Regions from separate parts of the Homo sapiens genome. Here region 2 is linked to region 1. Evidence: fine-mapped expression QTL. Tissue or cell type: whole blood. Region 1 holds a variant in brackets; the other region holds the start of a gene. All regions are shown on one strand. Distances are from middle to middle. Region 1 overlaps SUSD1 (sushi domain containing 1). Region 2 holds the start of LINC02977 (long intergenic non-protein coding RNA 2977).

What was found.
Region 2: LINC02977 starts here. The variant in region 1 is fine-mapped to the expression of LINC02977 in whole blood (TOPMed, PIP above 0.99).

Annotation. Positions count from the first base shown.
Region 1 is chr9:112,068,867-112,085,481 of GRCh38, reverse strand. SUSD1 (sushi domain containing 1) reads left to right here. Exons shown (of 17, transcript NM_022486.5): 11 at 5,317-5,408; 12 at 6,758-6,944. Among named protein-coding and RNA genes, the nearest start is that of LINC02977, 37 kb to the right of the region's middle. RefSeq lists enhancers at 948-1,027, 8,292-8,391, 11,597-11,766. The variant C/A (reference allele first, on the strand shown) is at 8,741.
Region 2 is chr9:112,034,565-112,048,773 of GRCh38, reverse strand. LINC02977 (long intergenic non-protein coding RNA 2977) reads left to right here and starts at 8,350. Exons shown (of 3, transcript NR_186812.1): 1 at 8,350-10,595. SUSD1 (sushi domain containing 1) reads left to right here. Exons shown (of 17, transcript NM_022486.5): 16 at 6,814-6,907; 17 at 7,282-7,991. The coding sequence ends at 7,282. RefSeq lists enhancers at 6,143-6,212, 6,303-6,352, 6,464-7,102, 6,508-7,707, 7,103-7,742 and 1 more.

The DNA of each region.
Region 1 (16,615 bases):
TCACCTCTATGTGTCCCAGTTGCCTTAACTGTGAACATGGGAATAACAATATCCATATCGTGGGCTTGTTGTGAAGACCAAATGGATTAAAGCACATGGAGAAACAGCACAATACCTGACACAAGATGAATGTCTATCAAATGTTAACTATTACTTACATTTACTTTCTGACATTTATTATATACTCCCTTGTTTTTAAAACTGTACTTACATAGGCCATAACTTCTCTCCTAGGTGAAATGCATGTTATGGGCAGAAAGCATGTCTTACTCAGAGTACTTATATTCCACTGGGTCAATGCAATACCATTTGCTTAGCTTTCCCCTTATTGCTGATTGCATTTGAACAATCATAGCTGCTGTGATTGTTTAAATCACTGCCCTAGACACTGAGAGTGCAAAGATTAAGAAGATGTCTCTCTCTTCAAGGAGCTATCAGTTCAACGGGGGTGATAGACAAAGATCAATAATACAATATATGAAGCATATTTGAGGTATTTGCAGGGTACCACAGGAGCAGAGAGGAAATAGTGATTGATTTTGCCAAGAGTCGCTTGCCCATACAAATGAAGCAGAAACAAAGTTTCATTAAGAGCTTAATTTTCTCTTTTTTGAGGCATTCTTGCAGTTCTGGTTTTTCAACTTCAGGATTCTAGATCACATTGGCCCAGCGGGTGGAGAAAAGAGAGAGAACACAGAGTAACCACTAAAAATGCATTAGAGAAGGAAGATTTGTATGAGAGACCACCGCACGTATCTTTCATAGCAAAGGATCTGAGAGCACTAGGAAGGGACTTGGGATGAGCTCTACTGGGGATCCTTTTCTCCTCATTGAATGCATCATGGGTTCAACCTGCCTGTGGCTGAAACTGTAAAGCCACTTGAATGGAGGGAAGCGAACCTAGAGTGAGAATGTCACTCCCTGACCCGGGTGGAACTGAATGAACTGAGCCAGTGAGACATTTCCTGTGAGCAGAAGGAGCTGCAGACTCACCACTACTGTTAGGTTACTTGAGCATATGTGTGTGTGTAATTTTAAAAAATGAAATAATTATATATATATTATTCTTCATTTTGCTTTTTTATATTATTCTTTGACTTTTGGCCTTACAATATCCTGTAGACATACTTCCATACCAATTCATGTATTGTCATCTCATTCTCTTTGAGGGAAGCACAGTATTCTATCACATAAAGGTATACTAATTTATTAACTTATTATCTATAGAAGGTTATTTGGGTATTTTTTTTCCCTTTCAAGTTTTTGTCATTACAGACAATGCTACTGTTAATATGCTTGTATATATTATGTTTTATTGATTCTCAGAGGCATATTTTTTTCACATTTTGGTATCTATGAAATCCTACAATTGTTATACAGTCAGTCAGGTGGCTGCCAAGAACATAATTGTCATTGTCCATCTATGCATCATATTGGTCATAGTTGCTCATAGTGCTGTCACTTCTATTTAGTTACGGACACTAGTGGTGCCATTTATTTCTTGAGATCAATTGCCTACTAAAACTTTTTCCAAAAAGCTACATTATGATTTGACATTGAGACATAGTGTTATAATATGTAAAGCGCAATGGGAACAGAACGGCAAAGTATAAGATCAACTTTCAGCATCAGAATGGGTGTCAGTGGATGGCGAGAAAGTTCTGGAAACAAAAAGAGCACATTTTGAAGAAATACTGCCTCACCAAACTCTGGATAGATAGCACATAGGATGTTATTATGTGGAAAAATATAGACACCAACAACTCTTAATTGAGAAGTGATTGAGAAGTGTTTGTTATATTCTGACCGTGAAGAAATTTTAGGAATGTCTCAATTAATTTTGCTTATATTTTTGTCTTATAATATACAATTAAAATTTAATATCTATGTTGGTCTGTAAAAGCTTTTTCAATCAGTATAAATTAGTTCCGTGAGATAAGAAAATAATTGTGGTGGCTGGGGGCGGTGGCTCACACCTGTAATTCCAGCACTTTGGGAGGCCAAGGTGGGCGGATCACTTGAGGTCAGGAGTTCGAGACCAGCCTGCCCAACATGGTGAAACCCTGTTTCTACTACAAATACAACAATTAGCCAGGTGTGGTGGTGCATGCCTGTAGTCCCAGCTACTTGGGAGGCTGAGGCAGGAGAATTGCTTGAACTCAGGAGGCAGAGGTTGCACTGAGCTGAGATTGTGCCACTGCACTCCAGCCTGGGAAACAGAGAGAGACTACATCTCAAAAAAAAAAATTCTTTAAAATCTTCGTGTAAGTTTTGGACATTTCTAGTTAGGTTTATTTCTAGGTATTTGAAGTTTGCTTGTGATATCCCATCTCATGAATATGGATCTTTTTATTTTTCTATTATATTCTGCTACTTGTTGTATTAGTTTTCTGTTGCTGCTATGACAAGTTACTGCAAACTTAGTGGCAGAAAATAACATGAGGGCTGGGTACAGTGGCTTACATTTATAATCCAGCACTTTGGGATGCTGAGGTAGGAGGATTGCTTGGAGGCTGAGGTGGGAGCCCAGGAGTTCAAGCCCAGCCTGGGCAACATAGAAACCCTGTCTCTACAAAAAAATTAAAATAAATAAAAAATAAGCCGGACGTGGTGGTGTGTGCCCGTGGTCCCAGCTACTTGAGAGACTGAGGCAGGGGGATCACTTGAGCTCAGGAGGTCAAGGCTGCAGTGAGCCATGATCAGGTCACTGTACTCCAACCTGGGTGACAGAACAGGACCCTGTCTCAAAAAAACAAAACAAAACAAAAACTAAAAGCAACATGAATTTAGTGTCTTATAGTTCTGGAGGTCGGAAGTGTGAAATCAGTTTCACTAAGCTGTAATCAAGGTGTCAGTAGGCCTGTGTTTCTTCAGGGGCGGGGGGTATCTAGGGGAGAATCTATTTCCACGCCCTTTCCAGTTTCTAGATCCTGCCTATACTCCTTGGCTTGTGGCTCCATCCGCCATATTTAAAGCTCATCAGTTTAACCTCTGCTTCCGTTCTTAAATCTTCTAACTCTTATGTTCTTGTTGCTCTCTTATAAGGATGTTTGTAATCACATTGAGCTCATCTGGACAATTCAGGATAATCTCACTGTCTTAGTCACCTCTACAAAGTGTTTCTGCCATGTAAGGTAACATACAGGTTCCAGGGACTAGGATGTAGACATGCTGGTGGCGGGTGGGGGTCATTATTTAACCTACCATACTTGTTCTTGAAGATAGATAGAAAATGATCAGTTTTTGTATGTTGCCTTTCTGTTATTTTCAAACAGTTTCATGTTTGATTAGTTGAGTCTCTTAGATTTACTGGCAGTTGCATCATTTGTTGCTCTTTCTGGCATTTATAGCTCATTTTTTTTTCTTGCCTTTTTCTGCATTGTCTAGAATCTCTTGAATAAGGCTCAGTAATAGCTACAAGACCAGACATCCTTGTATTGTTCTTAACTTTACTAGAAATTGCTTAATTGCTTTACCACTGAGTGTGGTGGTTTCTTATAAACCCTATTAAACTAAGGCGTTTCTGTCAAATGAAGTCCTAGCTCACTAAGATTTCAAGTTAACAAAGTATATTAAATGTATTAACAGTTCCATTTATAAAAGTAACCACATGGTTTCTCTCTTTTAACCTATTAATAGCTTTTCCAATAATGATACTCTCTGTATTCTGGGAATAAATCTTTGGTCGTAGTGTATTGTTCTTTGAATGTACTACTGACTTCTTTGTGCTAATATTTTATTTTGGATTTTTGTATTTATATCAACAAGCAAATTTGGCATAGGATGTTTAGTGATTGGCTGTGCCATCCTTGTACAGGTCGGGCATTGTGGATTATTTAGTCATATTAAATGATTTGGGGACCCTTCCACCTTTTTGTATAGTCTAGAACTGTTTAAATACTATTGGAGTTATTTGTATTTTGAAAGTTTCAGAAGTGTAACTTTGGACCACTACTACTAATCTCCAAACCTGTCTCTACCCAGCTGTGGGTCTGCATTAACCTGGAATCATCTGTACTCCTCCTGTTCCTTACCACCTGTTCATCTTTTCCTCCTGTTCCCTACCTGCTCCGTGTTGCAACATTTGAGGTACAGCTTGTGACTTGTACAGGTTTTCTTTGTGCCAAGCTGCCCAATCCATAGAGAGGAGTCGTGTCTACCAACTTGGCTTCATTTGTAGGAACCTGTCAGGCCAGGGAGTTACAAAATACAGCCTTACCTTTCATGAGACCTTCCTTTTTTCACGTAATTTGGGAGTTGTCTTTATCACTCGTTAATCATCACAGTGTTCCTGTGAAACTTCTTAGCAAGTCTGCTCTATTATTTCCACTTTAGGGACAGAGATCCTTATTGAAGGAAGTAACCTCTGATGTCAGGGTTTTGAATAAATAGTCTTTCTTGACTACTTGGATGGGTGTACCTCCACATTAAACTGTATCAGATCTGAACTGTCTTTTAGATTGATTACTATGAAACTGAGCAGAGGACAAGAAATATTTCTTTGCTCACAAGAGATAAGGAAGCCCAAACCAAGAGAATCCCGCCACCTCCTATTCTTTTCCTCATGAAAAACCTGATTGCTTCAAAGCACTTTTTTCAGTTCCTCAAGGAGCAATTCTCTGCTGAAATGTTGCTCTTAGCTCAGAATTTCGAACCGACACTTATTTGTATAAATGAGGGTATACAAGGTCCAGGACAAATAGTTGTAATTTTAGCTTAGTAAGCCAAGGAAGCTTGCAGTAAATAGACTCAAATAATTTTTTTCCTTTTTCTTTTCTTTTTTTTTTTTTTCTTGAGACAGAGTCTCACTCTGTCACCCAGGCTGGAGTGCAGTGGCACAATCTCTGCTGACTGCAACCCCCGCCTCCCAGGTTCAAGCGATTCTCCTGCTTCAGCCTCCCAAGTAGCTGGGACTACAGGCACACACCACCACGCCCAGCTAGTTTTTGTATTTTTAGTAGAGATGGGGTTTCGCTATGTTGGCCAGGCTGGTCTCGAACTCGTGGCCTCAAGTGATCTGCCTGCCTTGGCCTCCCAAAGTGCTGGGGTTACAGGCGTGAGCCACTGTGCCCGGCCCACTCAAATAATTCTTAAGAGGGGTCCTCCGATTAGGTATCTTTGGATCTGAAATCTTTCATCAAGACTGAGTTTACCTAGATATAAAAGTGGTATTACTTTGAGACTGCTACCACTAATTTCTAAATTAAAATACTGTTGAACTCATGCTAACACTTATCCTTGGAAAAATGGCTCAATTAAAAGGTAGCATTTTTTCTATAGAGTGTAAATTGATTTCTCATTTCTTTTCCACTACAGTAAAACAGACCATCAGTAACATTTCAGGATTTAATGAAACCTGCTTGAGATGGAGAAGCATCAAGACAGCTGATATGGAGGAGATGTATTTAGTAAGTGACTGAAAGTTACTGTATTTATAGATGGTTGTCTTATGTGGGAGGCTTAAAAATACCCACAAACCTAAAAATCTACATCTATAACTATCATTATCAGTAGACGATTTACTGTGACAATTGCATCAAGAAGCAAGAAGATGGCCACTTCTGTGTATTTAAAGACAGTGGCTGGGCACAGTGGCTCACATTTGTAATCCCAGTACTTTGAGAGGCTGAGGCGGGCGGATCACTTGAGGCCAGGAGTTAAGACCAGCCTGGTCAACATGGTGAAACTCTGTCTCTGCTAAAAATATAAAAATTAGCCGAGCGTAGTGGCGCATAGCTGTAATCCCAGCTATTCAGGAGGCTGAGGCAGGAGAATAGCTTGAACCCAAGAGGTGGAGGTTTCTGTTAACCAAGATCGCGCCACTGAACCCCAGCCTGGGTGACAGAGCAAAACTTTGTCTCGAAAAAAAAAAAAAAAGGAGGGGGAAGACTGGGATGAACTTCTACTGGAAGAAATTAAGTAAGAACAAAAGGGTGTCTCTTGGCCGAAGTGTCAGGGTGGTTAAGGAAAGGGTAGGGTCACCAGAAGCTGGCAGGAAGAGGAGAAAAACTGTTCTCAGGTTCTAGCAGACCAGCTACGAGTATTCTAATTCAGGTCCTGCTTAGTTTGGATTCCTAATATTCTTTCTAGGAAAATGTTCTTGTCCTTGCTCCTGCAGTTTTGCCAATAGACTTTCTTGTTGTGTATGTGCACTGTATGTGTGAGAATAAGGAGAAAGCTGCCAGTATTGGGACCTTAGCCTTTTGTGTGTTTTTATTTAAAAATATATTTATTATACAAATAATATTTTAAGTACAATATTTATAGTATTGCAACTCTAATATTTGCTTACTGCTGCATTTCACCTTTTGAAGAAACATTAGAGTCCAGAGAGAGAGAGAGAGGAAGAAAGCTCATGAAAACGGGAAGGGGCTGGGCGCGGTGGCTCACGCCTGTGATCTCAGCACTTTGGGATTCGAGGTGGCAGATCACTAGAGCTCAGGAGTTTGAGACCAGCCTGGGCAACATGGCGAAACCCTGTCTCTACAAAAAATACAAAAATTAGCTGGATGTGGTGGCATGCATCTGTGGTCCCAGTTACTTGGGAGGCTGAGGAGGGAGGATCACTTGAGCCTGGGAGGTTGAGGCTGCAGTGAGCCGAGGTCATGCCACTGCACTCCAGCATGGGTGACAGAGTGAGGCCCCCATCTCAAAAAAAAAAAAAAAAAAAGAGAAAGAAAAAGGAAAAGGGGAGGTTTCAAGGCATCTAAAGCCTTTTAGGCCAACCATTCACCCAGTGAGCTTTTTTATGTTTCAGTTCCACATTTGGGGCCAGAGATGGTATCAGAAGGAATTTGCCCAGGAAATGACCTTTAATATCAGTAGCAGCAGCCGAGATCCCGAGGTGTGCTTGGACCTACGTCCGGGTACCAACTACAATGTCAGTCTCCGGGCTCTGTCTTCGGAACTTCCTGTGGTCATCTCCCTGACAACCCAGATAACAGGTAAATCTTGAATAACAGCATTTGGATTAACAAAGTTACCACAGAATTGTTCATAGGTCCTGATAAAGAGGAACACTGTTGCTTTTTATCATTATATAATGAACTTTAACAGGGAGAGGAGGAAGGACATGGAATTGGAGAGGTGCCTTAAGGCGCCTCTGTGACTGTTATGTTTCATTCTTTTTTCTTTTTTTGAGGCAGGGTCTTGCTCTGTCGCCCAGGCTGGAGTGCAGAGGCACGATCATGGCTCACTGCAGCCTTGACCTGGGCTTAAATGATCCTCCTGCCTCAGCCTCTTGAGTAGCTGGGATTATAGTTGTATAGGCCACCATGCCTGGCTAATTTCTGTATTTTTTGTAGAGACGGGGTTTCACTATGTTGCCTAGGCTGGTCTCGAACTCCTGGGCTCAAGCAATCCACCTGCCTCGGCCTCCCAAAGTGCTGGGATTACAGGTGTAAGCCACTGCGCCCAGCCTGTTATGTTTTATTTTTAAAAAGATACCTAATAACCACAGGGGAGGTCTGTGGGGAGGGGGAGGGGGAAGATACCTGAAACAAAATGTCAGCATTGATGAAATGTGGGTAGTGTGTCCATCCATGGTGTTGGTTGTATAGCTTCTGGATATTTAAAGCATTTAAAATACTTTATACTTAAACAAAAAATGCTTGTGGCTCTTTCTTTCTCAGGAATATTTAGTTGGCATCCTGTTGCAAGTACTTTAAGAGTAGATTACTAGCTAGGCACAGTGGCTCAAACCTGTAATCCCAGCACTTTGGGAAGCTGAGGAGGGTTGATCATGTGAGGATCATTTCGAGATCAGCCTGGCTGACGTGGTGAAACCCCACCTCTACTAAGAATACAAAAATTAGCTGGGTGTGGTGTCAGGTGCCTGTAATCCCAGCTACTCGGGAGGCTGAGGCAGGAGAATTGCTTGAACCCAGGAGGTGGAGGTTGTGTTGATCTGAGATCGCACTCCAGCCTAGGCAACAAGAGCAAAACTCCATCTCAAAAAAAAAAAAAAAAAAAAAAAAAAAAAAGTAGATTACTATCAGGGGACAATGATTGTAGTCCTCCGGCTATAGGGCCCCAGTAAATTCACTTTCCACTCATTTTCTCCTCCCTCTTCACATCTGTGACCCCCACTTCACACATGCTCTGAGCAAATACTAAGCATATTAGCTTCTTGATTCTTATTTCACTGAGAAATTAGAAGTAGTCAGGTGAGGACTTCCCACGCTCAGCCCTGCCGTTCCTCCTTGCATCCTGTTCTGCCTCCCTTCCTGTCCCTGCTCGTGTGTAAGGCTGCCATCCCCTCAACTTGTGCCTTAGATCCCATCCCTTCTTCCCTGATCAGCACTTCCCCTCAATACAGAATTATCCCCAGCATTGCCTAGCATGTTGCAACATCCTCCTTGTGAACGAAAAGAAAGAAAAAATGAGCAGACCTTCTTTGAGCCCATATTTGTCTTCAGCTACTTTGCCTTCTCTCTGCCCCTTTCTATAAAAACTCCTTGAAAGAAATGGCTGTTCTGTAGGCTCCACAGCCCTACCTCCTGTTCTCACTTTCACTCATCCCACGTGGGAAACATACGTCTTCATTGCTTTACTGAAAGGCTCTTCGTTTGATCTCCGTCTTGCCAAATCCAATGGCCAGTTTTGTTCTTATCTGATTTCTTCGATAGCGTTGACACTCCCTCCCTCTTGAAACCCCCTCTCCCTTAGTTTTGGTTCCTTCTGCCTTGCTGTCCCCTCTCAGTCTTCTTTGCTAGCTCCATCTACTTTTATGACCCCTCTT[C/A]AGCCTCCTTTTCTTCATTATCTACCCTTTCTGCTTAGGTGATCTCAACCAGTCTTATGGCTATAACTATTACCTATATGCAGAGGATTTCCAAAGATCAATTTCTAGTCCCAGCCTCTCCTTTGAGCACCAGACTCCTATATCCACCCAACTTCTACACATGTCCTATTGAACATCTAATACGCAAATCAAACGGAACTTGTGATTTCTCACCTCTGCCCTCGCCCCCAAATCGGTTTCCACCCAGGCTTCTCTGTTTCTATCTGTTACTTTCTGTCTGTTATTGGAATTTCTGTTCACCCAATTGTTCAGACCAAAAACAAGTCCTAATTGGTTCTATCCCATCCCCAAATTTCTAATCTGTCAACAAGCCCTGTTGGCTTGCTGTCTGAAATATATTCTGAATTCCACCACTTCTCCCCACCTGTGCCTTTTCCACAACTACCCTAATCCAAGACAGCCACCTCTTGCTTGGATTCCTGCTGTAGTTTTCAAACTGGTTTTCTCTTGCCTATATACCTCCCACCCTGGACCTTAGTCTTAGTCTTCACCATAACTTTCAAAAGATCACTCAGCACTCAGAGTGATCTTTTAAAAATGCATTTGGGAACATGTCAGCACCAGCTCAAAACTCTCCAGTGAGTTTCCATTAAAGTTAGAATGGAATCCAAGTTCCTCATCATAGGACATGTCATCTGGCCCCTGCCTACTTCTAATTCATCTCCCCCTGCTCTCCTCCTTTCCCATTAAGCATCAGCTGTCTCCCTGGCCTTCTTGCAGTTCCTTCAATGGGTCAAAGTTTTTCCAGCCTCCAGACTTTTCCATCTGCAGTTCACACTTCCTGGGACACTGTCAACATATGGCTTCTCCATAGTTGTTCAGGTGCCTGCTCAACTGCCATCACCAGCCTCCACGCTAGTACTCTGTATCTACTTACCCTGCTTCAATTTCTTCATAGAGCTTCATATTAATAAAAAATATTAATTATTAGTTTTTAGAGATAGGGTCTCACTCTGTCACCCAGGCTGGAGTGCAGTGGTGCAATCATAACTCACTGCAGCCTTGAGCCCCTGGGCTGTAGCAATCCTTCTGCCTCAGCCTGCTGAGTAGCTGGGACTATAGGCGCTCACCACCATGCCTGGCTAATTACAAAAGGGATTTTTTTGTTTTTATTTTTTGTAGAGATGAGGGTCTCCCTATGTTGCCTAGGCTGGTCTTGAACTTCTGGCCTCAAGTGATCCTCCCATCTCACCTCCCAAAGTGCTGAGATTATAGGCATGAGTCTCTGTGCCCAGCCTAGAGCTTGTTTTCTAAAAACTTATTTTTTTTTTATTTTCTTTCTCTCCCACTAAAATAGGAGCTTCCTGAAGACAGTGATTTTTGTCTGTATGTTTTACATTCAACCCTCAGTGGGTAAGAATGGTACTGATAGATAGCATAACAGCCCAAAATTTTAAAATAACAGCCAGTGGGTGGTATTGGTGTTGAGGAGATGTCTGGTTAGGCAATGAATTCTGGCTACCAGAAAGAATTCCCCACATTTTGGGCTGGAGAGACAAGTGGTGTTCAGTCTGGGCATTTCTTTCTGTGGTGACTTATTAAAATGAATAGCGACTCCATCTCCATTTCCTACTCTGTGGTCTTTCTCATATTTGGATGCTGTGCTTTTCTGGTTTGAAGGACCGTTGCATATTTTTTTGAGTAAAGGGGAGGGGGTTTCATCTTGATGAGACACTTACTCCTTGTTTGGTAGGCTGAATAGAGCTTTAGTGGCTCAAGTTCCCTCTCTCTGTGCTCATGGCCACCAGGGGACATTGTTGAGCTGTTTAATGTTCATTGAGATGCCTATTTTCCAACTCTACCCACTTTAAAGGACTCGTAATTTTAAAGAAGCATAAAAAAATCAAGTTGCTTTGATCTTATGAAAGAGTTAAAAAAAAAAAAAAACCAACCCCTTTCTTTTATAAAAGGAGGAAAAAAGAGAAGCTTATGTGTTGATGTGCAGAGATACTCGTGGTTTCCTAAGAAGTGTGTGGCCTTATTTCGGTAAAATCATGAACTTTTGAATTTTGGCAGATGTGTTAGGCTAAGGATTTGGGTCTGGACAATGTAGCTGCTCATTTCCCAGAAGGAAAGAGAGTGGAATTTCCCTTCTGAGTGTCTTACGTTAAATCTTACTGATGGGAACAGGATGAAAACAAGTGCTTTAAATACATCGCTGACCTCAGAGGACAGTGAAGGTTCTAGGAATGTTGAGGGACAGAGGCAAGTGTTTCGGTGAATGCAGGAAAGCAGGGGCTGGCGAGGGGGTGGGTGAGATGGAGCTGTGGCCTCACGGTGTTTCTGACTCTTGGCTGATAGGCTGCAGACGGCACATTGAACTGAATTCTTCAGGATAGCCCCACGGCACGCATCCCCTTTAGGACAGGGTGAGGAACAAACTTTCATCCTTGATGCAGGCCCCAAAGAGTCAGAAGAGCATCCACATGTTGAGTGTGCTATTTTCTTTTTCTTTTTTTTTGTTTTGAGACAGAATTTCGCTCTGTCACCCAGGCTGGAGTGCAGTGGCGTGATCTGAGCTCACTGCAACCTCCACCTCCTGAGTTCAAGTGATTCTTATGTCTCAGCCTCCCAAGTAGCTGGGATTACAGGTGTGTGCCACCACGCTTGGCTAATTTTATATGTTTAGTAGAGATGGGGTTTCACCATGTTGGCCAGGCTGATCTTGAACTCCTGGCCTTAAGTGATCCGCCCACTTCGGCCTCCCAAAGTGCTGGGATCACAGGTGTGAGCCACTGCACTGGCCTCCTTCCCTTCCTTTCCCTTTCCCTTTCTTTTTTTGAGACAGTCTTGCTCTGTTGCCCAGGCTTGCTCTGTTGCTTACGCAGTGGTGTGATCTCGACTCACTGCAACCTCTGCCTCCCAGGTTCAAGCGATTCTCATGCCCCGACCTCCCAAGTAGCGGGAATTACAGGCACACATCACCAGCCCCGTCTAATTTTAAAAATATATTTTTAGTAGAGATGAGGTTTTGCCATGTTGTCCAGGCTGGTCTCAAACTCCTGACCTCAAGTGATCTGCCTGCCCTTAGCCTCTCAAAGTGCTGGGATTACAGGCATGAGCCACTGTCCAGCTGAGTATGCTATTTTCTTGCTAAGTCTAAAAGCTTTGTAGGCAACATTTTCTTATATAGAGAGAGAAAGAGGAAACCAGAGAGAGGAGGATGGGGGTGGGTGGGGGCGGGGTGGGGAAGAGAGAGAAAGAGAGAGAGAGAGAGTGAGCGTGAGAAAGCCAATACATACGTAAATGTGGAGATAAACCAGACCACTTGTCTTACACAACATGGTGATCATTTGAGATGGAATGTTTATTATGGAACCAAGCATGCTGGAGGAGCAAAGGGAAGAAAAGATGAAAAGGAAATTATTTATTCCCATGTCTTCAGTACCAAGGCTGGCAACTTCTTCAAGAAATTTCCCATCTCTCATTGTATTCATAACAAGAAAAAGGAAAGTACTTTTTCAGACGGTTAGGAAAACAACAGAAAACACAGGAGTGTCCCAGGCATTTATCAGATTGTCACTTTATCAGAGAGGTCCAGCCAGGACTGCCCTGATCCTCCCTGCCCCTGCCTCTGACACCGCCCTCCACAATGGGATGTCCTCAGGGAAGACTGTGCAGGACTAGGTCTCTTGGTTTCTTTTACCGAGGCTTCTCTTTCATGGTTGGTTACCCACAAACCATCCAAGGATGCTGTACCCCTGTGTCCTCAGTGAGAAACCCATCTCCCCTGGCTGGTTCCAAGGTACCACACTTATCCCTGGGGGCCCCCCTGGCTCCAAGGGGGCTGAAGCTGTACCACAGGTCAGCAGAGGGACTGGCCTTCATGCCAGCTGTTTTCCTTTCCAAGTCTTCCGTGGACACAGGCTCTTTTGATATCTGGAGCCCTAACATTAGGTCACGCTAGGAGAGGCATGTTTGCCCTTCCATGCTTCCACAGTCCACGTATTTCTCTCATTCCCAGAAATCTCCCAACTGCTTTCTAGCTTCAAAACAAACCCCAAGCCCCCAAGTAAATGGCTGTGTGGGGATGGGTGTCTCCCAGACCCTCTTGCTACCAGCATCTGAATCTCAGCCAAAGTTAGCTTTTATAAAACGTGCATGAGAAGGTATTCTTAGATCAGAAGCCTGGAAACTAGGGTTTCTGTGTGTGTTGGGAGAGGGGGAGGGGCTTGCTGAGCTGTAACAATTTAATTTAGCAAATATTTATTTATTTACTTGTATTTGTTAAAAATGAGATGGGTTGGCCAGGCACGGTGGCTCATGCCTGTAATCCCATCCCAGCACTTTTGGAAGCTGAGGTGGGTGAGTTCGAGACCAGCCTGGCCAACATGGTGAAACCCAGTCTCTACTAAAAATACAAAAATTAGCTGGGTGTGGTGTGGGTGCTTGTAATCCCACCTACCTGGGAGGCTGAGGCAGGAGAATCTCCTGAACCCGGGAGGCAGAGTTGCAGTGAGCTGAGATTGTGCCACTGCAGTCCAGCCTAGACAACAGAGTGAGACTCCGTCTCAAAAAAAAAAACAAAAAAAAAAAAAAAAGAGAAAGAAAGAAATAAAAAAGAATAAAAATAAATAAATAATAAAAGGAGATGTCTTGAGAAGTCACTAGCAAATATTTTTCGATTGGTTATGTACAAAGACCTGTGCTGCCTACTGAGGATGTACATGTGAAAAGAAATTGGTTTCTTCTCCTTGGGAGGTGAAGTCTCATAACTTTATTGATGGAGAAGATATATCTAGCTGATGACTTGTAGTGGAAGACACTATTTTTTCTGTTGCCTTCAATTTTAATTTACCATGCCTTGGATGGGATGATATATCTGGAGAGGTGCCTGAGGATTAGAAAAGAACCATCATGCTGTGTTTATTTTTCTACCTACTTTTTATTATAGAAAATCCAGAAAAGTAGCATTGTACTGGGTTTTTGGGCGGTGGAGTTGTGTTTTAATTCAATTGTTTGTGTTTACTTGAAGTTTGCAGTACAAAGTTGGAGACGTTGCTTAGTTTTGATGCAGATAAAATTTTCTTCCATTTTTGGTTCTTTTTGTTCATTTTGATGGGTTTTACATAGAGACATTTTAACACATTTGTACTTATACTACCCTTTTTCTTTGGTTGATTTAATAGTTTACCTTCATTAGTGATATTAATATTTTGATAAATATTACAAATTCCTACTCCAAGGCTATTTACTCTTTTGTTTTCTTTTCAATTTTTTTTGAGACTGAGTTTCATTATGTTGCCCTGGCTGGAGTGCTGTGGCACAATCATAGCTTACTGCAGCCTCAAACTCCTGGGCTCAAGCAGTCCTCCTGCCTCAGCCTCCCAAGTAGCTGAGACTACAGGTGCATGTCACCACACCCTGCTAATTTTTTCTTTTTGTAAAGATGAGGTCTTACTATGTTGCCCAGGCTGGTCTCAAACTCCTGAGCCCAAGCAATCATTTTTGCCTAGGCCTCCCAAAAAGCCAGGATTATAGGTGGGAGCCACTGCACCTGACCTACTTTTTTGCACTTAAAATTTAGTTTCAGGCTGGGCACAGTGGCACATTCCTATAATTCCAGCGCTCTAGGAGGCTGAGGAGAGAGGACTGCTTGAGTCCAGGAGTTCAAAGCTGCAGTGAACTATGATCATGCCAGTGCACCCCAGCCTGGGCGACACAGTGAGACCACTTTTCTACAACAAACAAACAAACAAAACCAAAACAAAACCACTTAGGTTCATTTGGAATTTATTTTGATGTCTGATATGAGGCTAAATTTACATTGTAATTTTTCTCCCCAGCTGTAAGCCAGTTCCCTATCACCTTTGGAACTACTGACCATCCATGCCACCTGGTGCATTTCTTTGGGTCTCTTTCCAGACTGTCTAGCTTTTTTTCACTGTTTGTCTGTCCTGTGCGTGTACTTTACTATTTCAATTGCTGTAATTTTATGATACATTTAATATTTTTTTTTGCAGAGCAAATTCTCCTTCATTACTTTTCCCCACATTTCCCTCCATGTGAGGATTTCTTTTGCCATTTGCTTCTAGCAGAGGAGGGATATTCCTGACATCCGAGGATGGTAATGAAGGTCTCTGTTCTGGTTCCTCTCCCATCTCACACACCCAAGGTGAAAGAGCTATATTTTCCAGCACAGGCAGGACCCATTTCTTGCCTTGGGTCTAAATCAGTTTAAATCAGTAACGAGGTTGATGGAAAGGAGAGCAGGTCTACCCAGGACATCAGTTTGGGAGACAAGGAAGAGCACCTTGGAAAATTCAGCTGAAAGTCAAGTTTGTTCCACCTCGAAATGTGGCTGAGAACCAGCCTGACGAGGCTTAGGCTTGTACATTGGAGAGAAAAAGTAGACTGTTTAAAATATAAGGCAGCGGCTGGGCGTGGTGGCTCATGCCTGTAATGCCAGCACTTTGGGAGGCCGAGGCAGGTGGAATCACCTGGGGTCAGGAGTTCGGGACCAGCCTGGCCAACATGGAGAAACCCCGTCTCTACTAAAAATACAAAAATCAGCCGTGTGTGGTGGTGCATGCCTGTAATCCCAGCTACTCGGGAGGCTGTGGCAGGAGAATTGCTTGAGCCCGGGAGGCGGAGGCTGCAGTGAGCTGAGATCACACCATTGCACTCCAGCCTGGGCGACAAGAGCGAAACTCCATCTCAAAAAGCAAAAGCAAAAACAAAAACAAAAACAAATAAAATAAAATATAGGGCAGGGAGACCTTAGGCAAACAGAGCAGAAAATGGTCTCAAAGTCACATGTTGATTGAACCAGATGACTGTGGTGCCTTGAAAACTGTGACTCTAGATTGGGAAAGAGTGACATCACCTGGACCAAGCAGGGGGATGGCCTTCCTGCTCGGTCTGCAGTTGCCTCTTCTGAGCTCAGTGAGTACTTTGTTCTGCTTCTCCTGTGTGGTTTTAAAATGTTAGCCAAGAGATTAGAGGAACTAGAATTATTACTCTTGGAGTAAAGAGCTGGTGGGGGCGGGGCGGGGTGGGGTGGGGCGGAGTTCTCACACAGAAAAGAGTGACCAGTTAATCTCCACCTTGGCTGAGAAGAGGAGACACGTAATAAAAAAAGTTAATTTTACTGTGACAACAAAACGTCACAAGTGAAAGGGCATTTCGGTGATAGCAAAGGGCCTGAGGGCAGTTCGATCTCAAAGGGGAAGGGGTACGTTCCCAGGGGACATGTGTGGGCTTTTCCTCTCTCCTCCATCACTGCCACAGGAATCCAGCTGTTGTCTTCTCAGCTGTATCCTACAGAATCTCTCTCTGGACTGCTCTTGAAAATAGCATAGACCTTCATTTCAACAAATGAGTGATGTGAGGCCTAGACTCTAAGCAGAGGCTTTTCCAGGTGACCTCCTGGGACACCTGGCAATGCCGCAGGTTTAGGAAAAACATGATCTATATTGCAGTGTCTAAGAGACTCTGGGAGAAATTCTAGACCTAACACTGTTTCATAAAGGCCACAGAGTTCTCTTACTCTTCCACCTGGTCTTAGAGCCTGGGTTTCTCGGTGGTCCGCCCTTGGCCCCCATCTCTCCTCACATACTTTGATACTGGCTCCCTGGTGGCCACGTTCACTCCTCCCTGTGAGCTGCCTCTGTATCTCCACCATGGGGTTTGCTCCTAGGCTCCAGACCTATGTTTCTAACTGCCTGCTGGAGGATTCCTTATACACTTCAACCTGAACAGACCTAGAAGTGAGCTGCTTCTCGTCTTCCCCCAGACTTGGTAAATGACATCACTGCTGACTTGGTTGCCAGATTCCTGCCGTCTCTCCCCTGAGCAAGGTTTCCGTTTGTTCCC
Region 2 (14,209 bases), 36 kb after region 1:
TCAAGATTAAAATCAAATGCCCTTTCTTCCCTGAAGCTTTTTAAATTTTCTCAACAGGGCAGGATCTGCCCTTCTTTGGCTATTCTGCTATATTTTAGAGCAATGGGTGTGCACTTGTTTTGTCTGTCTTCTACTACTAGATTTTACACCCTTGAAGGGCATTTGAAGAGGAGGAACAGAGCCTGGCATGCATTAGGTGTTCAATCAGAATGCACTGAATTGGGCTGAATGATTACTGAGGAAGCAGCAGTTAGTTTTATGGGAAATGAAGCATAGGAGGTGCAATACTTATCAAATAAGCCAGAGAAGACTTACATCAGGATATAAACCTAGTGTGTATGTATACATATGTATTTACTGTATATGTACATATATGTGTATATATGTACATATATACATGCACACAATCATTTTAAACCTTTATAGTTGTGATGGGAAGAATTCTAATATGGTTCCCAAATTCCTTGTCTTTGGTATACATCTACCTTCTCTCAGTTATTCATTCAAAGACTGTTCTAGGTATTGCTGTGAAGGGATTTTGGAGATGTACTTAAGCTCCCGAATAGGGAGATTATCCAGATAGGCTTGACCTAATCACAGGAGCCCTTTAAATCTGGATCTAGAGGTCAGAGATAGGGGAAGTTGGAGCTTCAAAGAATGAGATGGATTTGACATAGGGAAATTCTCCTGCAGCTTGAAGATGGAGGGGTCCACATGGCAAGGAGTGCAGCTTAACAGAAGGAGCTGAGCAAGGCCTGGCTGCAGCCAGTAAGAAAATGGGGACCCTAGTCCTATAACTGCAAGTGTCTTAGTCTGTTTTGTGTTGCTATAACAGAATACTGGAGGCTGGGTAACTTATTAAGAAAAGAGGTTTATTTAGCTCATGAGTCTGTAGGCTGGGAAGTTCAAGAGCATAGTACTGCATCTGGCCTGCTTCTGGTGAGGGCTACATGCTCACCAGAACAATGGTAGAGAAGTGGAAAAGCCAGCAGGTATATACAAAGAGATCATGTGATGACACAGGAAGCAAGAAAGAGTCTAGGAAGTTGACTCATTTTTATAACAACTAGCTCCCTGGTAATACAGCCCCTCCAGAGCAAGAACTCACTCACCTCTGAGAGAGGGCATTAATCTGTTCATGAGGGCTCCAACCCCATGACCCAAATAGTTCCCACTAGGTCCCAACTCCTGACACCACCACATTGAGGATTAAATTTCAAGTGAGTTTCAGAGGATATAAACTCAAACCATAGCAGCAAGGAACTGAATGTAGCCAATAACCTGAATGAGCTTGGAAGCAGCTTCTTCTCCAGAGCCTCCAGAAAGAAGTTCAGTCCACCTGAGACCTTGATTCTAGCCTCGTAAGGCCCTAATACGGTTTTCTTCTATGTACCCACCCAAATCTCATGTCGAATTGTAATCCCCATGTATTGAAGGAGGGGCCTGGTGGGAGATGACTGAATCATGGGAATGAATTACCCCCTTGCTGTTCTCGTGATAGAGTTCTCATGAGATTTGGTTGTTTGAACGTGTGTAGCACTTCCTCCTTTACTCTCTCTCTCTCCTGCTCTGGCCATGTGAAGACTGTGCCTGCTTCCCCTTCACCTTCTGCCTTGATGGTACATTTCTTGGGGCCTCCCTAGCCTTGCCTCCTGTACACCCTGTGGAACTGTGAGTCAATTAAACCTCTTTTCTTTTAAATTACCCAGTCTCAGGTAGTTCTTTATAGCAGTGTGAGAAGGGACTAATACAGGCCCTGAGCAGAGAACCAGCCACAATGTGCCTGAACTTACCACCCACAGAATTCTGAGCTCATAAATGGGTTAAAGCTACCTAAGTTTGTGGTGATTTGTTAAACTGCAATAAAAATGGAATATAACAGTGTTGCTAATGTATCAAGCATTAATCTTTAAATTAATCTTTAAACTTATCTTTAAATTAGTTTTCCACTTTGATTTCCTTTGCCATCTTTGGCTCTGAATGGAATTCAAGTGAGAAGACCCTAGAATAGCAAAGAGAAATTTAACACAGTAAATAGAAGTCACTGTGCTAATTATTATTTTTATTATTATTTACCATTTGGAGAACAGAATTGGTGCTTTCAGGAAGTGACCATGCCCGTGTATATTCATGAAAAAATGTCCACACCCATGGAGCGTCCTCAAGCTGTCACAAAGTCTGAGAGTAGAAATAGGGCCTTTCTAACTTCCTCTTCAGCATGTGATATTTCTATCAGGGAAGGGGTTAAAGATAAGTCCAGCAAGGCCCCATCACTCCTCCTGAGCACTAGCTCTCTTGAGGGAGCCACCATAAAGAGAATGGTGAAGTTTAGTCTTAATGGACTTACTTTCTCCAAGATTGAGTAACTGATGTGGGATATAACACATGAGTGATTCACTTGGGTTTGTAAAAAAATATTCTACAAGTGATTCAGAAGAAAAATAAACATGGTTCTCTGGCATGAGACCATGGAAAGGTAGGGTAACCAAAGGATGGTGAGGCTATAAAAAATACAATTCAAATTTGCCAGTTGTAAATTTTCTTATTAAGGAATTAATGAGGAAAGTCTCTAAAGAAGCTTGTGTGGCAACACTTGTGAGCACTCTTGATTAGATTGACTCAGATTTTTAGAGTATATATGCAAAGTAGACAAAAAGACATATAACCAGGAACTGATCTACCAGCAAGAATCATTCCTGGAGCCAAACCCAAATTGTGCTATGCAGAATAAATAAAGATCATTTTCCAATACTATGTCTAGAGTAAGGAATAGTTGTGCCCAGGTAGATCCTGCTGGTGGATGGTCAAGTGAAAGTCAGCTTCCTTAACTCCTACTTAGCTTTTGTCCTCTTCGTTTGTGAGGGGATAGTTAGAAGAAAGAAAAGAGCTTGCTACCCTACATAGGTTCAAGTCTTCCAACATGGATGTAGCGTATTCTGGCAGGTTCATACAATTTTCACATGAGATGGATAAACCATTGCAAATGATCTTCAATAAACCTTGAAGAAAATGGAGAGATGTAAGAGGACTAGAGATGAGCAAAGAACAAGGAACTTTGTACAAAGGAAGAACCACCAGAAGTGTAGATGATGGTAACTTGAAGTCAAGGCAAAGCAAGGTCTTCAAGTGATGGCTTGTGTATCCCTGGTAGAAAAAACAGCAGTTCCCGGGAGTCAGGAGCTTTAAGAGCAGATTAGGTCAGATTGCTTTCCATTTCTTCTTGCACAGAGTCAGTAATTGGTCAGGGAAATATGGCACGCATAATAACAATAATGTCCTTGTGGACAATGTGGGGACATGAGAGCTGTATGTGGGCTTAGAAACAAGCTGAATGGCTATGCACAGTTGATATCAACTCATTAACAATTATTGATGAGTTGAAATCAAACCCAAGAATATGCATGATATGGATTTCTGTCCACAGTCATCTTCAGTTCAACATATTCATCAATCAGTGATTAAAATATACAGAGGGTTAAAGTGTAGAGGAAAAAATACACAGAAAAAAACTTGATGTCAGAAGTTGGAAGGAATACTGGGTAGATCGGATGAAATGCCAGTGCAGTAAAGTACCAGCTCCCCCGTTCATCTCCAGAATTGTATTTTCTCTTAAAAACAAAACAAAACAAAACAAATCTAGTTAATTAGTCCACCAAGATGGCATTTAAAAAAATGTTTCTGAGTCATGCACAAAGATGGCATCTTAATGCCTTAATTTGCATTTTTATTACTTGTAAGAGAGCATTTGCTCAAAGTTTTATTGATCATCTGTAATCATGTTTTTCATGTGATTTACCTTTTCGTAGAATTTTCTCATTTCGCTATTGAGGTATGTCTTTATTAATCTGTAACACTCTCTGTATGTTAACTTCTTGCCCATTATTCTAGATATTTTATCCAGCTTGCCATTTGCCTTTTAATCTTGCTTATGGTAGTTTTTGGTATAAGAAGTGCATGCTTTTTAAAGTGGTTAAATCTCTCATTCTCTTAAGGTTTCTGTGTTAACGAATATGCTTAGAAATTTCTTACCCCCTTTAATATTAGGTAAATATTCACTAACATTTCCTAATCCTTTTAGGTTTCAATTTAAGTCTGTAATCCATCTGGATTTTATTTTGATATATGGTGTAAGCTCTAGTGATCAAAATTATTTGATTCTAAATGGTTAGCCAATTTTCTCAGCACTGGTTATGAAAAATTTATCATTTCCCCAATGATCTGAAACAGTATCAAAACAACAAAAACAATAATAATTAACAATAGCTAACATTTGCTTATTGCTTATTCTGTGCCAGGCACTGTTTCAACCTGTACTAACTCACTGACTTCTCCCACTACCTAGAGGTGGGTAGTATTGCTATCATTCCCATGTTATTACAGCATCCCTCAGTGTGGGGACTGAGACACAGAATGGATGAATAACTTGCACAAAGTCACACAGGCAGTGGTGGTGTTCAGATAAAGACTTGGACATCTGACTCCAGTATTCAAACTTTGAAAGTATTTGATATGCTTGGATTTGTTTCTAGGCTATTTTGTTCCAATGTATTCATTCCTATTCTAATACTGCACTGTTTTACTGTCTTGCAATTCAAGTCACTCTCCTAATATTTTTTCTTTACTAATTCTTCACTTAATCACTGTTTCTCCTTCCATTTTATAATCTAGTTTCTTGGCTGGGCATGGTGGCTCATGCCTATAATTCTAGCACTTTGGGAGGCCAAGATGGGCAGATCGCCTGAGGTCAAGAGTTCGAGACCAGCCTGGCCAACATGGTGAAGCCCTGTCTCTACTAAAATACAAAAACTAGCCGGGCGTGGTGGAGTACACCTGTAGTCCCAGCTACTAGGGAGACTGGGGCAGGAGAATCGCTTGAATCCGGGAGGTGGAGGTTGCAGTGAGCCGAGATCATGCCACTGCACTCCAGCCTGGGTGACAGAGCAAGACTCTGTCTCAAAAAATAATAATAAATAAAAATAAAATAAAACAAAATAAGTAATCTAGCTTCTTAAAGTGTCAAGGCCATTTTTCTTCTATAGACTAAAAGCAACCAAATAATATAAGCCATGTTTTCTAGAAAGGCTCTTGGCAGCATTTTTTGAGAATTAGTAACCGCCCAATGAGTTTTCCTTGCCTGCTGCCTAGACAGAGCTGATTTATCAAGACAGAGGAATTGCAATAAAGAGCTTAATTCACACAGAGCCAACTGTATGGGAGACTGGAGTTTTATTATTACTCAAATCAGTCTCCCTGAAAATTCAGGGATGGGGTTTTTAAGGATTACTTAGTGGGTAGGGGGTAGGGGATGGGGGGGTCAGTGAGTCAGAAGTGCTGATTGGTTGGGTTGGAGATGAAATCACAGAGTCGAAGCTGTCCTCTTGCACTGAGTCAATTTCTGGTTGGGGGCCACAAGATCAGATGAACCAGTTTATGGATCTGGGTGATGCCAGCCGATCCATGGAGTGCAGGGTCTGGAAAATATCTCAAGCACTGATCTTAGGTTTTACAATAGTGATGTTAGCCCTAGGAGCAATTTGAGCAGTTCAGAATCTTGCAGCTTCCAGCTGTAGGACCCCTAAACCATAATTTCTAATCTCATGGCTAATTTGTTAGTCTTGCAAAGGCAGTCTAGTCCCCAGACAGGATGGGGATTTGTTTGGGGAAAGGGCTATTATCGTCTTTGTTTCAAAGTTAAACTATAAACTGAGTTCCTCCCAAAGTTAGTTCAGCCTACGCCCAGGAATGAACAGGGGCAACTTGGAGGTTAGAAGCAAGATGGAGTCAGTCAGGTCAGATCTTTTTCACGGTTATAATTTTCTCGGTTATAATTTTTAAAAAGGCGGTTTCAAGTTCTGCAGGGCTGTTTAACACAAGGTGTATTCTATGGCTGGTTTTACTAGTGCCAGGTACTGTACTGAGTTTCCAATAGAAATGCACTCCTCTTAACCTGGCTGTAAAGACCTGAGTTGTACTTAGCCACTCCCACCTTGGTTCCTTAAGGGAATAATAATAGTACCCAATGTGAAGGCTGGTTAGAAGCCTAAATGAGTGAATATTTGTGAGGTGCTTGGAACAGTGTCTGGCACATAGTAAGTGCTAAGTAAGTGTTTGCAAATTAAAATGAAATTTTTGCTCTAATCTAGAACATGATTCTCTAAGTCAGTCACTTGGCCCACATGTGCAACTCAACTGTGAGTGTTTTTTAGTTTATAATCGGGGATCTCCCTGGAGTTGGCATGTGATGGTCCCCAAATAGAAAGTATGTCTTTCAAAGTACTTTTATCCTCTCAGTAAACCTGCTGACCTGAGCAGGGAAGTATGACCCTTGTTGAGGTATGGAGAAAATGACAGGTGACTCAACAAAGGATATTCCTTTGCTCTATCTGACCATCAGGGCTATCAGTTTTGGAAACCAAATTCAAATAATATCATAATGACTTGTCCCTCCATGCAAAAGAAAACGGCCCATAAAAATCTATCAAATGTAATTGATTGTGAGAGGACCAACAAAAAATGTAACACGTTGCATAGTATTTGTGTGCTCAACAAGATTAGCTGTTTTCTCCCTTGTAACTTTAACATGGTCTGGCTTTACACTTCCTTTTCAGAAATACCTTGTAACTGTAATTTCCTGAGGCTGCATATCCACAGGGCCAACTCAGGGGACACACAGGCATGTTGGGCATTCTTGGGATTCTTTGTTAAATGGGGCCAAGCTCTGGGTTAAAATGGATTGAGCACAGTGGGGTGTGTGCCTCCTGGGAGGTGGTGATGCCGTGCACTCTGGGCTAAGCCTGTGGTTTTGTCCCACAGATTCGTCACTCATGCTGCTGCAGATGGCGGGTGTTGGACTGGGTTCCCTGGCTGTTGTGATCATTCTCACATTCCTCTCCTTCTCAGCGGTGTGGTATGTGAGGGTGTCATTTTTGAGAAATGACTGGAATGGAGGGGAGGATGGGTCAGAGTCACGAAGAACAGCTGGGGATGAGGGGAGTCAAAGGGAGTGTGGGTGGAGGTTGTCCTTGGCTCAGCAGAGCACACTCAGCGGTGAAAGGCATGACTAACCCTGTACCTCCAGGTAGCATGGGGGATGCCTTCCCAGGAAAAGAGCAGGACCAGTGATGGCTGCCCTGGCCACACACAGAGGGGTGGCTGAGCTTCCATGCTGCTCCCCCTCGCCTCCTCCCATGGGTGTGCGTGTGAGCTGTGCATAGAGATGCACAGTGGGAAAACCAAAGTGTGTTCATATTTGTCTCTTTTCTTTTCCTCCTCCATGTCTAGATGGCAGATGGACACTGAGTGGGGAGGATGCACTGCTGCTGGGCAGGTGTTCTGGCAGCTTCTCAGGTGCCCGCACAGAGGCTCCGTGTGACTTCCGTCCAGGGAGCATGTGGGCCTGCAACTTTCTCCATTCCCAGCTGGGCCCCATTCCTGGATTTAAGATGGTGGCTATCCCTGAGGAGTCACCATAAGGAGAAAACTCAGGAATTCTGAGTCTTCCCTGCTACAGGACCAGTTCTGTGCAATGAACTTGAGACTCCTGATGTACACTGTGATATTGACCGAAGGCTACATACAGATCTGTGAATCTTGGCTGGGACTTCCTCTGAGTGATGCCTGAGGGTCAGCTCCTCTAGACATTGACTGCAAGAGAATCTCTGCAACCTCCTATATAAAAGCATTTCTGTTAATTCATTCAGAATCCATTCTTTACAATATGCAGTGAGATGGGCTTAAGTTTGGGCTAGAGTTTGACTTTATGAAGGAGGTCATTGAAAAAGAGAACAGTGACGTAGGCAAATGTTTCAAGCACTTTAGAAACAGTACTTTTCCTATAATTAGTTGATATACTAATGAGAAAATATACTAGCCTGGCCATGCCAATAAGTTTCCTGCTGTGTCTGTTAGGCAGCATTGCTTTGATGCAATTTCTATTGTCCTATATATTCAAAAGTAATGTCTACATTCCAGTAAAAATATCCCGTAATTAAGATTGTTCTTCCCTTGGTTAATTTTTCTGTTACTAAGCGTCTTCTAAAAATGCTCTTTGCCCCCTGTTAGAAACTGAGATTTGGTGGTAGTGTAGTAGCAATGCTTAAAACAGTATTGAGCCCATGGCTAGACTAGAGTCCATGTGTGTTTCAGGGGAGGGGTTGCCATAGAGGGTGACACTTCTTTTATCTAAACTTCAGTAACTATGAATGTTACTCCATTATGAACTATGAAACATTAGATATAAGCGGTGCTGGACCTACTGTGAATATGCTAAGTTGACAGCTGGAGTCTATTTGATTTTACTTTTAAATCATGAATTGGCATTCTTTCCTCTTTTTTTTTTTTTTTTTTTTGAGATGGACTCCCACTCTGTTGCCCAGGCTGGAGGGAAGTGGCGTGATCTCAGCTCACTGCAACCTCTGCCTCCCGGGTTCAAGTGATTCTCCTGCCTCAGCCTCCCATGTAGCTGGGACCACAGGGCCCCCCCACCACGCCCAGGTAATTTTTGTATGTTTAGTAGAGATGGAGTTTCACCATGTTGGCCAGGGTGGTTTCAAACTCCTGATCTCAGTTGATTCGCCCACCTTTGCCTCCCAAAGTGCTGAGATTACAGGTGTGAGCCACACGCCCGGCACTAACTAACAATTTAACTCCAAGACTCAGTAAGAAACGAATGGGGAAGGAAAGACAGAGGCTTCTGGCATCTCTCCTTCTCCCTTGCCTGCTAGGCCTAGAGAAGAAAAACCATGGAGGAGGGGAGGTGATACTGCACAGCCTCAAGATGCAGCATAGACGAATGCAGTCCTTAGCAAAAGGAAAGGGCTTCCCAATGCAGTGGGCCGGTGTGTTCACCGGCTTGCTGGGTGTCAGTGAGGGAAGACTCTGAGTGCCTTGGGCTTATGGGCAGATGAAGAGACAAGAGGAACAAGTACAAACTGCCCATGTAGCTGCTCCACCCCAGGGAGTCCAGAGTGTATCCGCTCTATTGGGAAGAATTAGAGAGAGGCGAGTAATATCCTGACATTCAGGTGTTCAATGCCAGCTGTCAGCCTCTGGCCCCTGCCAGTGTTAGGAATGATTCCCCTGTCCTCTGGGGTACTGCCCTCCGACGACAACTTAGGATCAGCATTTAAAACCCTTTCTGCTCTCGTCTTAGGTAAATTATAGACCAGAACGGGTCTATAATGGGGACAGGTCCCCATCCTAACCCCCAGAGACCGTTTCTCTCAATAGATGAATACAAATAGCTCTCAATTTTTAATTTTTATGTGCAATAATGCAAACATACTTTTTTTTTTTTTTGAGACGGAGTCTCACTCTTTCTCCCAGGCGGGAGTGTAGTGGCGCTATCTCGACTCACTGCAAGCTCCGCCTCCCGGGTTCACGCCATTCTCCTGCCTCAGCCTCTGGAGTAGCTGGGACTACAGGTATCCGCCACCGTGCCCAGCTAATTTTTTGTATTTTTAGTAGAGATGGGGTTTCACCGTGTTAGCCAGGATGGTCTCGATCTCATGACCTCGTGATCCACCCGCCTTGGCCTCCCAAAGTGCTGGTATTACAGGCATGAACCACCACGCCTGGCCGCAAACATACATTTTTATAGCTCCTGAACTAAATTGGGTATCAATACAAATTACTGTGGTTAGTGTAGGGCTCGGCCTCTGATGAGTGAGGATCTTTCCTCAAAGCCCACCTTTGTCCAAAGAAAGAATCTGAGCCTCCCCTTGACTTATTTTATTTTTTGCCAGTTTTGTAAATGCTGTATGCTTCCATACTACCCCCTTCCCTAATTTCCACCTCTAGAATTAACTGCCAGAGATACAGTTGTCCACATGGAATGTAGTATAATTGTGATAGAAAGGAAGAAATCCCCCTTGCTTAGTATTAAAAGTTTCTGGTTAAAATAACTGACTAAATATTAAGTAAAACATCACCTTCTGGGTACAATGCAGAAAAGTAAAAGCAGTTCATATAAGATTACTAAACTTTGGGAGGTCTTCAAGACCAGCCCTGGCAACATAGCGAGACCCCATGTCTGCAAAAAAAGTTTTAAAAATTAGCCGGGCATGGTGGCGTGCACTTGTAGTCCCAGCTACTCAGGAGGCTGAGGCAGGAGGATCGCTTGAGCCCAGGAGTCTGAGGTTGCAGTGAGCCGTGGTGACACCACTGCACTCCCGCCTGGGTGACAGAGTGAGATCCAAAAAAATTTACTGAAATAACAAAAACGTGGACTTTGGGATTTCCTCTAACTGCTGCAAATTATAACACAGAATTGCTCAGTGTTAATACTTGAATTGTGGGGCCAAGTCTTCTGGCTGCCCTAGTTCTCTTTTCTGGCATTTGAAAGCCCTTGAGCTAGCTATGGAGCTAATCTTTGGACAGGCTTTTTGGTTCCCAGGAATGTCATGCCTTTGAATTTCCAATCTATATATATACAGTGTGTGTGTATGTATACCTGTCTTTTCACTGTAAGGCACCTCCACCCATCCCTTATAGAAGGAGCCACAAACAATCAAGCAAATGGATGGAGGTTAATTAAGGGGAAGAGGAAATAGTCTGTTCTCTGACTCGAGACCTGAAATTGCAGTGGGGCACGTAAGGTAAGACCAGAGCAGAAGTGATTATCTTGAAATTCCACTTTAGCTTGGAATAAAATTAATATTTAAATTGATTTTAAAGGAAATAAAAAAGAACATTCAGTGTTCCCTTTTCATTGCTAATCTCACATTTTCTGATTTTCTAAACCTTTTGTTTTCCCATTCTTTTCTTCTAAGAGGAACTCAATGGTCTCATAGAAGTCAATCAAATAGCGTTGTAAGAACCTTTTACCTACCACATCCTTTGTTGGTTAGACTGAACCAACAAAGCAGTGCCTGCTTCTGGGGAGGAAGGATGTGGCCTTTTCTGTGCCCCAGTTTGTGGGAGGGTGAGTCCATGAAGCAAGTCAATTTAAAAGGCAGTGTGTGCTCTTGTTTCAGAGAGAGTGAATCCTTTGGGTGGTGGTGGTGGAGTATGTGTGTGTGTGTGGTGGGTGGGGGGTGGGGCATGCACATCTAGATCCATACTTTTTGGGCTCAACTCAGGGTTACCAAAATAGAGTCAAACTCAACTCAGGATTACCTAAATGGAGTCAAATTTTGTGTGTGGTTTTGTAACATGATTCTTTCAGTCATCATTTCCAGGCCACATTTTTCATGTCACTCATGACTGCATTATAAGTTTGTACCATAATTCATTTAACCAATACTCTGTTGTGCATTTAGAATATTTTCAGATGTTTATTGTCCTTATAAAAGTCAGTATGAAGGTATGCAATTATCACTTAGGCCACATTCCTGGAAGTAAAATTGTTGGAATGGAAACTATGTACATTTTACAGTGCAGATTGCTGGAAGAGTTTTATGCAAAAACTTATACAAAAATTTACACTCTTACCAGCAGAAAGCCTCAGCGCCACTGAGTGCTGTTGTATTGTTAATCTTGATTAATCTGGTATGTGAAGAAGGATGTTTCAATGTTTTGTCTGTGTCTCTCTGATTATTTTGCTTGTTGATTGGCCAGTTGTTAATTCTGTCTTTGTGAGTTGTCTTTTTCTCAGTACTTGGCCTATTTGTCTTTGATTTGAAAAAGCTCTTTATGTTGTAGTCATTTTAATTCCTGTCATATGTTTTGTAAACAATTTTTCGAGTTCATAATTTTTCAATCTTGTTTGTATTATATTTTGCCACACAAAAATTTTAAATTTGTATAGTCAAATTTATCAGTCTTTTTCCTTATGTTGGACCTTCTAATCTCAAGGTACTAAATATAATCTAGCATTTTTTTAAACATTAAAAATTTTTAATCCATCTATAATTTATTTTAGGATAGGGAGTGAGGCAGGGGAAGGTATCTTTTTAAATAAAAATCGTTGCTAAATGGTTGGCTAGTTGTCCTATTAATAGTCATTGAGACCAGGAGCGGTGGTTCACCCCTGTAATCCCAGCACTGTGGGAGGCTGAGGTGGGAGGATCACTTGAGGTCAGGAGTTCGAGACTAGCCTGGGCAACATGGCGACACACAATCTTTACAAAAAATAAGAATTAACAGAGGCCAGGCTCAGTGGCTCACGCCTGTAACCTTTGGGAGGCCAAGGTGGGTGGATCACTTGAGGCCATGTGTTCAAGACCAGCCTGGCCAACATGGTGAAACCCTGTCTTTACTAAAAATACAAAAATTAGCCAGGCGTGGTGGTGTGCACATGTAGTCCTAGCTACTTGGGAGGCTGAAGTGGGAGGACCCCTTGAACAGGGGAGGTTGAGGCTGCAGTGAGCCATGGTCATGCCCTGTACTCCAGCTGGGTGACAGAGCAAGACCCTGTTTCCAAAAAAAAAAAAAAAAATTCATTGACTGTTTTTTTCTGTTAGTGATTTGAAATCATATACTGAATCATATGCTGAAGTCTATTTCTGAACTTCTTCTTTTGTTCTACTGATCTATTTCTGTGCCAATACCACCTACTGTAACTTTAAAATAGGTTTTTGTTTATACCAAGTAAGAATAAGTTACCATTATTTTTCCATTAATTTTTTTTTTTTTTTTTGAGACAAGGTCTCACTCTGTCACTCTGTTGCCCAGGCTGGAGTGCAGTGGCATGATCTCAGCTCACTGTAACCTCTGCCTCCCTGCTTCAAGCTATTCTCCCACCTCATCCTCCCGAGTAACTGGGACTACAGATGCGTGCCACCACACCTGACTAATCTTTATATTTTTAGTAGAGAGGGGGGTTTCACCGTGTTGGCCAGGCTAGTCTCGAGCTCGTGACCTCACGTGATCCTCCCGTCTCCGCCTCCCAAAGTGCTGGAATTACTGGCATGAGCCACCGAGGCTGGCCTGAGTATTCTAGTTTATAACTTACAAGGTCATTCATATGTATATGTTGTTGTGCTTGTCTAGCTATTTTATATTTTGTTATTCTGAACTCTTGGCCTCTATCTCAGCTCCAGCCCCTGAAAGTGCAGGAGTGCTTTTGCTCTGCCAGTCGGCCTTTTTTGGGAAATCATATCAAGATGGCTTTTCCAGCACAATTACTTCCTAGAGTGTCTGCTTGATGCATGGAAACTCATAGATTTTTGGCATGCCAAACAGAGGGTTTTCCTGCCGTCACTGCTGGCTCCAGCCACAGACTTCAGTTTTCTTACCTGTTAGAGCCTTTGTCCTCTGACTGGTGGAAATGGAGCTTGCTTCTTTTTGTTTTGCCTGCCACTAGTCTGGCAGCCTCCACCTCTTGACCCTTGGGTTTCTTATCCTTGGAATCAGATACGAGGCCCTGTGTCTTCTGTTGCTGTAGAGGACACAAGTCATATTCTCTGAGTGGAGATCTCTCTGAAGCTCCTCTTTCCAGGCTTGTACTGAGGGACCTCTGGACCCTCTACCACGTGGTGTCAAAGCTGCCAAGAGCTGTCATATGCTGGGTCTGTAAATTGACTTTCTCACCTCTGACCAGATGCATTCACTTGAGCGGCACAGAGATTTGGGGGAGTGAAAGGGCACTGTTTCTTTGGGTCCGTGGGCTTGTGTCCCATCCCCTAGCCTTGGGGTTAGCAGGATTCAGAATTTATGAGTGTGGTCTGCAAAAGTCTACCTCTACCAGATGGGGGAGAACCTAGTGTGTGGACCTGAAGGGTTAGCTCTGTGCTTTAGTCCCTGGGAGTGGCCATCTTGAGTCTTGGTGGGCTTGGCAAGTAAGGAGACATTGACCAGATTCAAAGCTTCCAGAGGTGGTGAGAACTCCAGGGCCGAGTAATGGAGAGTACAAAGGTCCTTCTTGGCCCCCATGACCCTTCCAAGCCAAGAACTTGGCAGTAGCTGTGAGAAGCAGAGATAGGGAGAGGAGGTGAGGGGCACCTATAGCTCTTAGCCATGAGTTATGACTCCCTCCATCCAAGGGAGACCCAAGGACATGAAAGGGGACTCAGTTCCAAGGATCAGAGGGAACTTGGGTTGTTTTGGGATAATGACTGTGGCTTGGGATGTCACGGAGATGAACACCAGAATTGGTGTGCAACAGATGAGCTCCAGTACCCCTGATAGTTTGCATGGGTTTTGCTCTGCTGATGATGGTCAGGGACAGCAGTGAGGCCCTCTACAATGCCGCCTTCTGCCTAAACACAGGCAGTGCCCACAAAAGGGGAGCTGTCATTATGGAGCCTAGGAATGGATAGTCAGAGAGCAG